3 linked regions of the Homo sapiens genome follow. The protein of the gene in region 2 interacts with the protein of the main gene of each other region in a biochemical or structural test. Each region holds a gene or a part of one and is shown on either strand. Other genes may lie near its edges.

Region 1 (4,123 bases), on a different chromosome or scaffold from region 2:
CGCTCGGGCTCAGCGCCGTACCCATGGCCGTCACGCCGGCCGCAGTCATGCTGTTCATGGCGCCCGCCGAGCCCCCCGGCATGCCGGCTACTGCGCCGGGACTCAGGCCGGCCCCTAGGCCCGGGTTGGCATAGGACATGTTGAAGGACGCCGGGGTCATGTTGCCGCTCGTAGTCATGGTGTTCATGGTCATGTAGGTGTTCATGGAGTTCATGGAGCCCAGGCCTGAGTTCATGTTGCTGACCGGGACGGAGGAGTAGGCCTGGAGTGGAGACAGCGAGTGAAGAAGCCCCGGAGGGCGGGGTTAGTGGTGGGCACTGGAGGGCGGCCGTCCGGGACCTAACCCGGGGGCAAGTGCAGAGCACTTTGCAGAACACGGGACGCCCCCACCCGGGGCAAATGGCTAAGCGCCCTCCCCAGACCGAGCAAAGATGTCTTGCACGGCAGGGGGAAAATCCTAGCGCGGCAGGCATGAAAGATAAACGCTCACAGAAAATATGACCCCAGGAAGATGTGTAATCGCCTTACACGCCAGGCTCAGGGGCTGGCTTCCAGGGCCCCCTCATCGCCTCCTCCATCCACGCCAGGCGGTATCCCAAGTCTCCACCCCAACCAGCCTCGGCAAAGCGCCCTTTGGGGGGAAATCGTTGATAGAGCAAATCACCTATGGACATGGGACCCCCTGAATCATCTGTTTCCCAACAAGTGGCTTTATTGTCCTAGGGGTTTTTGCCTATGGTGACTTTTTGTTGTTTATTGTATTTAGAAGTAGTGTTTTCTACCTGCTTGTAGCAACTGTAATGTTAAAAGGGAAGCAAACTCAGAGTTAAATAAGTTTTGGAAAAATAAAACTAAAAGTAGATCCATAACAGAAAGGGCTGGGAGGGGGTGCTATAATAATCTCAAAGTGCTATATGCATTTTATTTTAACATGACTTTACATGTACACCTTTGCAAGCTATTTAGAAACTCGCATTAATTTTGTCACCACTTTACAGTCCCCTGTTTGAAAAATTTGGTGACACAGTTTGTCAAAATAAATCTTTTTTTTTTTTCACATGCTGATGTTGCTGCCGATGATTTCAACGCCTGGCTTTGAGATTCCGTGAGTAGTCTTGAATAATTTAAAATTCGAAAATCAAATTCTACTTATTTTCTCTTAATGCTATTGTATTTCCTAATTCTCAGCTTTAACATGTAAGAAAGTACTTTCGCTAGGGGTCTTAATTGAATGGTGGGGTCGAGATGACTGCGTCAGAATTAAATCTCTGGAAGACCTCTGAGCTCCTTTTAAAATCATCAACAAGCGAAAATCCTTATCAATAGCGATGTGGGAATGCATTAGGTACAGTATTTTAAACATACAAAACCTAGGCATATTAAAAAGCACTCCTCTGGTAATTTAATAAGGAATAATGATGTCCTTAAGTTTATTTTAATCAGCAAGTATGACTCAATTTGAAAATATGAGAACAAATAGATTTAAATAGGAACACCCAGTAAACTATGGTATGCAAATAAACTCAGAGGTAAACTTGTGAATACATAAATCTAAATAAGTCAGTTACCATCAAAATATTACGTGATCCTATATTTTTCTGTCCACGTCTTAAAAGTATTTTTTACCTTGGGGCTTTATTTTCTTTCCCTCTTCCCAAGATTATCCAAGGCAGTTCCAATACGCGTTTTCAATAATGGTAATTAAACTTTTGGAGGGTAATCGCCAGCTGTTTCCAGAAAAATACTTTTAATAGGTGGTAGTCCTCCCTGTAACTGGTTTTCCCTGTAATCCTTTTGTGCACATTGTAAAAATAACCCCCATGAACGTGCCACCAAGGGGACAATGAAGAGAAACAGGTTCTCGGCCCAGAGTTGTGAAGAAGATTTTGGTCGCACTAGCGCCACCCAGCGGTTTTAGAGAAGGAGCACACTTCTCCCCAAATAGGGCTTTTGAAGAACAAGTTTTACAAAATTTAGAAATCGTTTCATTATTGAGACACCCAACTTGGCGGCAGAGCGCTTTAATCAGAAGACGTCTGCGAATTAAACGGTGGGACGAAGAGGTCGCCTTGTGGGTATGCTCCGGCTTTCTCAGAGTTGCTTCCAACTCGCACCGGCGCTCGCCCGCCCGCTGCACCCCGGGCCCGGCTCCTGCTCCCGCTCGCTGCTGGGAAGAGGCAAGCGCTTCCTAGAGCCGCTGTTTTCAAAGCCCGGAGTTTCCTAAAACTCCCTCTCCGGCTGCGAGAGTCGGGACAGAGCAGGGCAGCAGGTCCCGCTTCCAGGCCCGGCCAAGGCCCGGCCGGGGCCACACCGGCGGGCGGGCAGCGGTGGCACCGAGAAGGCGCCCCCGGCCCGCCTGCCTGCCTTGCCTGGCGCCCACCGCTCCCCGGCCTCCCCCGGCACGGGCTCCAGCGGCGCCCCACCGGCCGCCCGCCTCGCCTTGCCTCTCACCTCCTGCGTGTCTGCGTAGTAGCTGTTCCAGTCGCTGGTTTCATGCCCTTCCATCTTCACAGTTCCTAACATCCTGGAGCCACCCTGCCCAATACAACCATCCAGCCCTGTGCGAAGCGACGGGCGGCCGCGCGGCGCGGGGCGGGGGAGGGGAGCTGAGCAGCTGCAGTCACCCGAGCGCCCGCGCGGGCCCAACGCCACCCGGGCGAAGAGGAAGCCCAGAGCTGCGGGGCGCGGCGTGCGCGGCGGCGGCGGCGGCGCGGCGGGCGGGGGCAGCGCCGGGGGCAGGCGGCTGCCGCGGAGCGCGGCGCCGGGGAGCGCCTCCGCGGGAAGTGAGCGGGCTGCCTCTGCGAGGCAAGTGCAGTTGAGCTGATGTGGATCTTACGTCGCTTGAGTGCCCACCTCCTCGTCCTCTCCCCATTTGTCCGCCGCACAAAGACGCTCGCACCTACAAAGCCCGAGGTGCACCTGCAAGGCGGCCGCCCGCCAGTCCGGCCGCCGCGCCTCCCGCCCCGCCGCTTCACCGCTGCGCGCGACCCCTCCCCCGCGACCCCTCCCCCAAGCGGGGCCCTCACTTTGTTTGCAAAGCAGTGTAATTGGTTTAGGCCCGGAGGCTAGGGAAAGAGGGAAATGGGGAGGGAGGGGGTGTAACCCCCTTTGGAAAAAGAAAAAATAGGCGGGGCCAGGCGGGCGGGCGGGCTAGGGCTCTGGATCGGAACCTCGCAGCCGGAGAAGGCCGGGGGCGGTGGCGTCGGAGACTGGGCTTAGAGACCTTGTGGGATAACTGACCCCGGGGTCCCTCCCCAGAGGTACACGCCACCTTCCGAGCGCGGGCTGCGGCCCAGTCTCGCGCCCCTCCTGCTCTTTGCTTCCTCCCTCCTGATTCCTGACCCAAAGTTCAACCCCGGGAGACTGGAGAATACAGACTTTTTTTTTTCTTTCCTCCTGAGAGCTTCAGACTAGAAAAGGGAAAAAGCCCCACTTTTGCTTCGTCACTAGAAACCGGGTCATCTGAGTCAGCCGAGCCAAGTGACGTTAGGCCGACCCGGGCCCCGGGCTAGCAGAGCGGAGGCGCTGCCACGAAACTCGTACCTGCGGCTAAGAGCAGGTGAGTCACAGCACCGGTTTATATCTTTATGACATAACTTTTTTTTTTTGTTCCGCCTCGGTCCGCTCCTCTCCCCTTGTCATCTGTAGCGACCACAAAGAGGAAGAAACTGAGAGCAGATGTCTGTGTGATAGGGCAGGCGGACCCAAGTCGGGCCGTCCTCCCCCTGCCGGGCTCCTCCTCCCGCCCCCCTTCAGCCGCTTCAGGGAGTGAGCTGGAGACGACCGTCTGGTTTCTGATAGGAAAAGGTCAGGGGGAGGGGACATCTCCCATAACACGCGCGTTAGCTGGGAGAGCAAGGGCCTGGGCGCGGGAACGCATCTGCACTGCGAAAGAGATGCCAGGCAGAAGCCCGAGACTGCCCGCAGCGGCGCTTGGTCCTGTCTGTGACCCGGAGGGTCCGGGCTGAGATCTCAGGGGCTCGCTTGGTTCCTAATCGGTCCTGGACGTCGGTGGGAGAGTCTTCCCAACGCAAAGTCTCTTTACTCTCATGAGGCCCTGGGTGGTGGTTGCCCACTTGTCCTGGGAGAGAGAACAACTGAAGTGACCGGGTGATAGGCAATT
Region 2 (3,500 bases):
CACTTCCCCCTTTTAATGAGCTGGTAGTGCCATTACATAATCACCCAGCTCACTGGATTAATGATGAAAAGAGGAACTGATTTTTCCAGTTGCATCATTTGAAGTAAATGTTAACTTTCTTTCTGAGTCCTTAGTTAACCGCATTAGTGTGACAAATATGTCTTTGTCTAGCATAAGTAATTAGAATTTAATCACTTTAACTGCATCTTAATTACCCCAAATGAATTGAAAGGACATTTAATAGCAAAGATTAAATTGCCTTAATGAACGATTTTTGTGACTCCATCAATACTCGAATCGCTTTAGCCACTCCTCTCACGCACTTCAGTCGCAGAATCTGCAGCGAGCACAGAGGTCACTAGGTGGCGCGCTTCGCTCGTTTGTTTATTTAATTTTCCCCATTGATCTGTTTTAGAAGACAACAGGAAAGAAAGCAAAAAGCACATAGTTTATTGCGTTCCTTCGATAACCTCTCTTTGGGACTATGAGATCATCACCAGATGTGAAAACGAAAGCAGTGATTTCAGAAACCGTCGATTCTGAATATCCCGTGGCGGCATATGCAAAGGAAGATGAGAAACACATGGTGACTGGAAACATGCAGTGTTTGACAGAAATTGCAAGATGCCCTCTAGACAACTCCCAGCCTATATACTCTGTTTTGGTCAATTTATTACTTTTTAGTGCAGAGCCCTAAAATTTGAGTTACAGGCAATCTTTGAAATAGCAAGGCAGGCACTGATGTGGAGCCAAGAAGTGTAATTGCTGTCCAAGTGCAGATCAGAATGCCAATGCCTGAAGGTATGGGAAGATCTGAGCCCTTGGGCCCCCCTCAAGGCAAGGGACCGAATGGACCAGCCCCACCCACAGGCACATCTAATGAGATAGGTCTTGTCCATCAATAATTGTTTAAGTGAACAAAGGGATGGGAGGCTGGGGTTTCACATCTACTTCTGGCACTTCCTCACATTTTCTGGCTGCTTCTTCAAAAAAGAGTAATAAAAAATCTCTTTTACAAGTCTTGAGTATAAAAGAAATAAGTTTTCATAAGTGACTCTTTTTGAGAGTCCCAAAGGAAAGACACACTTTCTCTAATTTCAAGAGCTTATTATGTAGAGACTTTTGAATCAGTTATTTCCACATTCTGACTCCACTAACCTGGTGCACCTGTCCTGGCAACAGAAGCATGGGATGGAGGATAAAATGTTCTGGGCTTTGGACTGGGAAAGCTGAGCTCAGGGCATCACTGTTTTCCAGTGGTGTTATCACAAGTAAATTATTTAACCTCACTGAAGAGAGCAACAGGGAAAAAAGTGGTAAATACCACTTAGACTAATGGTTCCCAAACTTGGCTGCACATCAAAATCACCTGGGAGTTTATAAAAATCCAATGCCCATGTCACGTCCTGTACCAATTACATCAAAATATCTGAAGCTGCAGCTAGGCATCAGTTTTTTTAAAGGTCTCTAAGTGATTCCAATGTATAGCAAGATTTGGGAACCACTGGTATAAATGTTGAGTCTTCAATGAGAACATCTATGTTCCGATCACAGTACCCAACAAATAGAATGTGCACAAAAAACTTAAGCTTCTTCCTTATCAGTTACTATGACAAATGAGATTGGTTGTACTTTAGGGTCTAGTTCTGTCCAGCTGTTGTCTTATTAAATTGCCTCATCTAAAAGAGAAGAAAATTTCTTTTTTTCTTCAACTTTTATTTTGAGTTCCAGGGTACATGTGCAGGATGTGCAGGTTTTTTACACACGTAAACATGTGCCGTGGTGGTTTGCTGCACAGATCAACCCATCATCTTGGTACTAAGCCCAGCATCTATTAGCTATTAAGAAAAGAAAATTTCTAGAAATTAATTTGTTACAATTTTATGATACCGTAACATCTCTTGGAAGAGACATATGTGGATGCTTCTATAGCAAGACCCTGTGATAAGTAATTTTTATGTTTGTATCAAAATAATCAGATTGTCTTGTGATTGGTCTAGTCACCTAGCCCAATCTTATTATCTCAGGAGGAAATTAAACTTCGTTAGTATTAACATACTTGTATTAAAATAAGAACCTATACAAACCTATTGATAGAAGGTAGGAATTTATGATTGTGCACTAAATCCATTCACATAAGAAATATTTTTCTTTTTACTGGACTCTATGAGACTGACATTTTTTATGTAGAAATAATGTGGCTTTCTTCTCCCAAAGATGCTTATCCATCTTATTCAAATAGAGACACAATGAGAGTATTATTTAATAAATATTTGTTAAATGTTTTCTCCAGCATTATAAGAAATGCACCCTCTAACAACCACAACTTCAGTAACACCTTCCTTCTGTTGCTACCCTAGGTTGGGGGCCATTCAATTTTACCAAGAGTGTGGAAATTCTGCTGTTTTAATGGGGACTGAAAGGAAACTAGTCATTTCTCATTCAAACCATCAAGGCTCCTAGATTGATTTAAAATATTAAGTCGGTGTTTAAATATTCCAATAAATGGACTTTACAAAGAGCACAAGCAATGTCACTTGAGGAACAAGGCCTCAAGCTGAGGAGCAGGATATTGGAGAGCCTCCTTCTTAATTACCCACCTTTATTAGACTTGAGGATTTTCTGTCTTACAAGAAAATCAGAAATAAATTTTATTGGTATGCTCTGTAAGAACGATTTCTTCTGATAACTTGGGGTAGCAGCATTTGTTTGATTAGCTGAATTTGCCATGAATGTGGAAATAATGACATCAAAACAGCTCGTGTAACAACCTCCTTAAAGACCTCGTAGATTAGAGATGACTATAGATTTTCCCCAGCGCGGATCAAAGGGACTGAATTGAACGTTTTAGCTTAATGATCCAACCCCTGTCACACCCACAGGGACGCGAATTCCGATTTTATAAGCAGGTGTGCACGTGCACTCAGATACTCACACAAAGCCGCGTGGAGGGACGAAAAGATCAACCACCCGATCGACGAGGATAGGTTTGATCTTTTCGATTACCTCAGTGTGCCAGTGTATATTCCCGGCTGGGCCTAGCGCCCTAAGAAACTTCGGAACTTTAGCTGTTAATTTTTGTTTTCTTACTATGACTTCCCAAAGACATTCTATCTGCCTACCGGGGCGAAGAGAAATGGGACCAGGCGTCAGGGCGGTGGGACCCTGTCCAGGGTCCTGACTCCGCGCCAGGGCTCCAGACCAGTCGGCCTCCGAAGGCCCTTTCACCCACCCCACACAAGAGGAAACAAAGACTTCTCAGCTCAAGGCCTCAGGGCTGCCTCCTGACTCCGGTCAGTTTGCAGGAAGAGGAAACAACAAAACAAAGGAACCGCCAATCCGCCGGGTATTATATCCCTCAGCTCCAACCTCCGACTTCGGACCGCCAGGGTCACCTTCTCTACGCTGACCCCGCTTTTCTTAAATGAAAACACGCCAACAAAAGCATACTTCGGATACAAAATCCAAGTACGCATCTTTTTTGGGGAGGTTAGAGCTGA
Region 3 (3,500 bases), on a different chromosome or scaffold from region 2:
TTAAATTATACAATTCTTCCATGTTATCTGCTGTTACAGAAAATAACCTGGGCACAAGTGGTCTTGACAGGCTATCAAAAGATACTACTGCCCACTTTAAATCAGGAAAAAAGTAGGCACTAAAGCTCCCTAATGCAAGCTTGATGTGCCTCTGAAATATAAACAGAGAAAAGTTATAGAAAAGTTATAAAAAAGTTGAAAAGAATGGATGACCCAAGTCACAGTCCTTCAGATGAAAATAAATGTAGGTCCTTATATTTTGTATGGTACAAGTTTAAGATTTGTAAAACCAATTCTGTTATTCTGCAAGTAATAAGCAATAAAAATAAATTTCCACTTTAGAAGAAAATATATGTTCAATCCAAGACTATCTGCAGAGTTTGAATGTCCAGCAATAGAGAAATGGTTAGGTAAATTGTGGTAAATCAACTCAATGGACTATAATGTAACCTGTGAAATGTTTGATATGATATTAAGTGAAGAGACATAAAGGCTACAAAATTCTACATTTTCTTTCATTATAACTAATGTAAAATGTTATTTAAAAGGACAAAACCTGGAAGATAATATGTATAATGATGTCAGTTCCATCACAGTTCTGGAACTAAGCTAATCTTTCCTTTAAAAAAAATTTTTTTTTTGAGACAGAGTCTTGCTCTGTTGCCCAGAGTGCACGATCTCAGTTCACTGCAAACTCTGCCTCCAGGGTTCAAGTGATTCTCCTGCCTCAGCCTCCCAAGTAGCCAGGATTACAGTCACGTGACACCATGCCCAGTTAATTTTTGTATTTTTAGTAGAGATGGGGTTTCACCATATTGGCCAGGCTGGTCTTGAACTCCTGACCCAAGTGATCTACCCACTTTAGACTCCCAAAGTGCTAGGATTACAGGTGTGAGCCACCATGCCCAGCCTAAAAAAAATTCTTTAACTTCATTATATGGTCATTGCATTTTTTGAGTGAGGGCTCTAATTAATTTCAGAGTTATAGTGTAGCTATCTAGTCAACTATATTCAATAGATAAATAACACAAGCCACATATGGATTTTAAATTTTCTAGTAGCCACACTGGAATGGTAAAAACAGGTAAAATTAACTTCAATATATTTTATTTAATCCAATGTATCCAATGTACTATCATTTCTACATGTAATCAATATTTTAAAAGTATTAATGAGCAATTTTAAACTCCTTTTTGGTACAATCATAGAAATCTCAATTCAAACTAGCCACATTTTCAAGTGCTCATATAGCTAGTGGCTATCACACTGGGTATAGATGATTTACATCCCTCACACCTCAACATATTATGATAGCAATGAAAAGCAGGAGTTTGCAAGTTAAATTATAAAGACATTATCTCTGAATTGATGGAGTCATAATGATAACTAGGCAGCCCTATACTTATAGAGTCAAGTACAATTTTAGGTCTGTAACAGGCTTTATGGGGCCAAAGGAAAAGAACTTGCATCTGATTACCTTGTGTAGTTCTCTTTGTATCCAGAAATATCATCATTGGGAGATCGCAGTCTTCGTTGAGATGGTGCCTCCAGATGCCAATAGTTGATGCGGTTTAGGAACATTTTTGCCAACTCAACTATTGTTTGCCTTTCTTTTGCTGGCAGGTGACTAAATTTGTACTGCACAAAGTTATTCACACCCTTAAAAAGAGGGAAGGCAATTTCTTCATGCAGCTATGCAATCATACTAATTCTGAACACCCACACAGCCAGCATGATTGGTGGTTATTAGCAAAATAACAGACATTTCTCTATTCACAAAAATCTCTTCCTTTTCCCTAAAAGAAAATAGCAATCCCCAGAGGGAATCTTGCCTCAGATCACGGTGGATGAAAAGTGACAAGACAGAGAGGCTGTGAGTTGTGATTCTACGCCTGCTGAAATCCTGAAGCATTAAGGAGAAAATCAAAACCATGGACTGAAAAGGTCAAAACCCCTGAAACAAGAAAATATGACTGTTGTGCAGAATAATTATTGCTTTACTATCAGCAGAGTAGCCCACATATAATGCAGTTCTTAGATAAATATTGTTTTTACATTACAAAAATGCTAATCAAAAACCTGCTATCATGCCTACCACTGAACTAAACAACTAAAATTTAAACTCTTTACTATCATTTGTTTGAAGTCAATAAGCTTACCAAAATATATATATCATTCAAAATTATGGGCTTTTAAAAAAACTGTTAATTTAATCTTTCTACAGAATATTTCCATCTCATCTAATTTCAAATAAAAGAGCAATGAATTCTTATTTAATAGAGTTTGGAGGCAAAATAAAATTTACTGAAAACTGACTGATAAAAATGCATTTATTTTTAAGGATTCTGGTATCATGACTTCAGTAGTCATTCTCATCAAAAAATTCAGTCCAGAGTGTTTTTGTTTAGCCAAACAATCAAAGGCTAAAAAAGTGATGCTAATGAGAGATACTGACAACACCTAACAGAAAAACTCTTTACATTTTAACAGATTCCCTGAGTAAAACGGCTTCTTTCCAGGAATCATAATGTAGCAGGAAGTCCATTTCTGGGTACAAAATCTCATTTCTTTTTTGCTTTTTTTGCTTGACTTACAATGTTTTTCACATTGCTACTAAATCCCCTCACCTCAATAGGCTTTCTCAGACAGTGCCAAGCAAATGGACAAAGACTTCATTTTAAAGCACCAACAACAAGAAAAAGCACATTTCATGTGTTCTTCTTACAAACTACATGTTCTACTTAATGTTTTTCTTCCCCAAACACACAGTAAACTGTGAGTATGTAACAACCCTAAAAGGCAAAAGCTAGATCATGTATTAAATTAGGTATACACCTCTGATCCAAAGCCTCCAGGACAATTTCCACAGACTGGTAAACATCTCTAACCTGGGTATGGAGGAGGGAAGCCGTAGATAGAGATATAAAAGGAGGATTAAAAGATTTCTTCAGCCTTGAGCCAATAAAAAGAGGGCTTTTAAAATCTTTTTACCTGTTCAATGCTAGGTTTTTCAAATGGGGGTTTCTTTTCCAAAGAGCCTTCAACCACAGGTTTTCCTCTTTGTAAAATAGACTTTCTCAAGAGCTGCAAAGAAATCATTAAAAAAAAGAAAAAGAAAAACTTAATTGGTATGTCTATCTCTCTCTCCTCTCTCTTCTGTTTCTGTCTGTCTCTCTCTCTCTCTCTTACACACACACACACAGCCTTTAAAGGAAGTTACCATATTCTATTTATCTTAACTATATATAAACAAATCCTTAAGTCAATAAAATGGGCAACTATCAGGTAACCCAAATTGGCCTTCATGTCCACGGCCAGAGTTATGAAGAAATGGACACCTTTCATGTTCTGGGCAGCCTAGGCCACCCATGCTGGTCCAACAGACACCACCGTCCCATGCACTTCCCTCTTCTCCCCACTGTTTCTGGCTTTCCATTGACCCAGAGGCCTGGTATGCAACCCTACACACTTGGCACATGCCCATCCAGGCCACTATAGGT

Evidence for each region.
Region 1: the proteins of ONECUT1 (region 2) and FOXA1 form a complex in vitro, tested with the Homo sapiens proteins (one study listed by BioGRID).
Region 3: the proteins of ONECUT1 (region 2) and KAT2B form a complex in vitro, tested with the Homo sapiens proteins (one study listed by BioGRID).

What each region holds. Positions count from the first base shown.
Region 1 is NC_000014.9:37,592,450-37,596,572, forward strand, and holds the start of FOXA1 (hepatocyte nuclear factor 3-alpha), read right to left. Parts: upstream 2,801-4,123; 5' UTR 2,524-2,800; coding exon 2,452-2,523; intron 263-2,451; coding exon 1-262. UniProt on the Homo sapiens protein: Transcription factor that is involved in embryonic development, establishment of tissue-specific gene expression and regulation of gene expression in differentiated tissues.
Region 2 is NC_000015.10:52,780,337-52,783,836, forward strand, and holds part of ONECUT1 (hepatocyte nuclear factor 6), read right to left. Parts: intron 549-3,500; exon of another isoform or gene 260-548; intron 1-259. UniProt on the Homo sapiens protein: Transcriptional activator. Binds the consensus sequence 5'-DHWATTGAYTWWD-3' on a variety of gene promoters such as those of HNF3B and TTR. Important for liver genes transcription.
Region 3 is NC_000003.12:20,099,446-20,102,945, reverse strand, and holds part of KAT2B (histone acetyltransferase KAT2B), read right to left. Parts: intron 3,085-3,500; coding exon 2,992-3,084; intron 1,660-2,991; coding exon 1,478-1,659; intron 1-1,477. UniProt on the Homo sapiens protein: Functions as a histone acetyltransferase (HAT) to promote transcriptional activation. Has significant histone acetyltransferase activity with core histones (H3 and H4), and also with nucleosome core particles.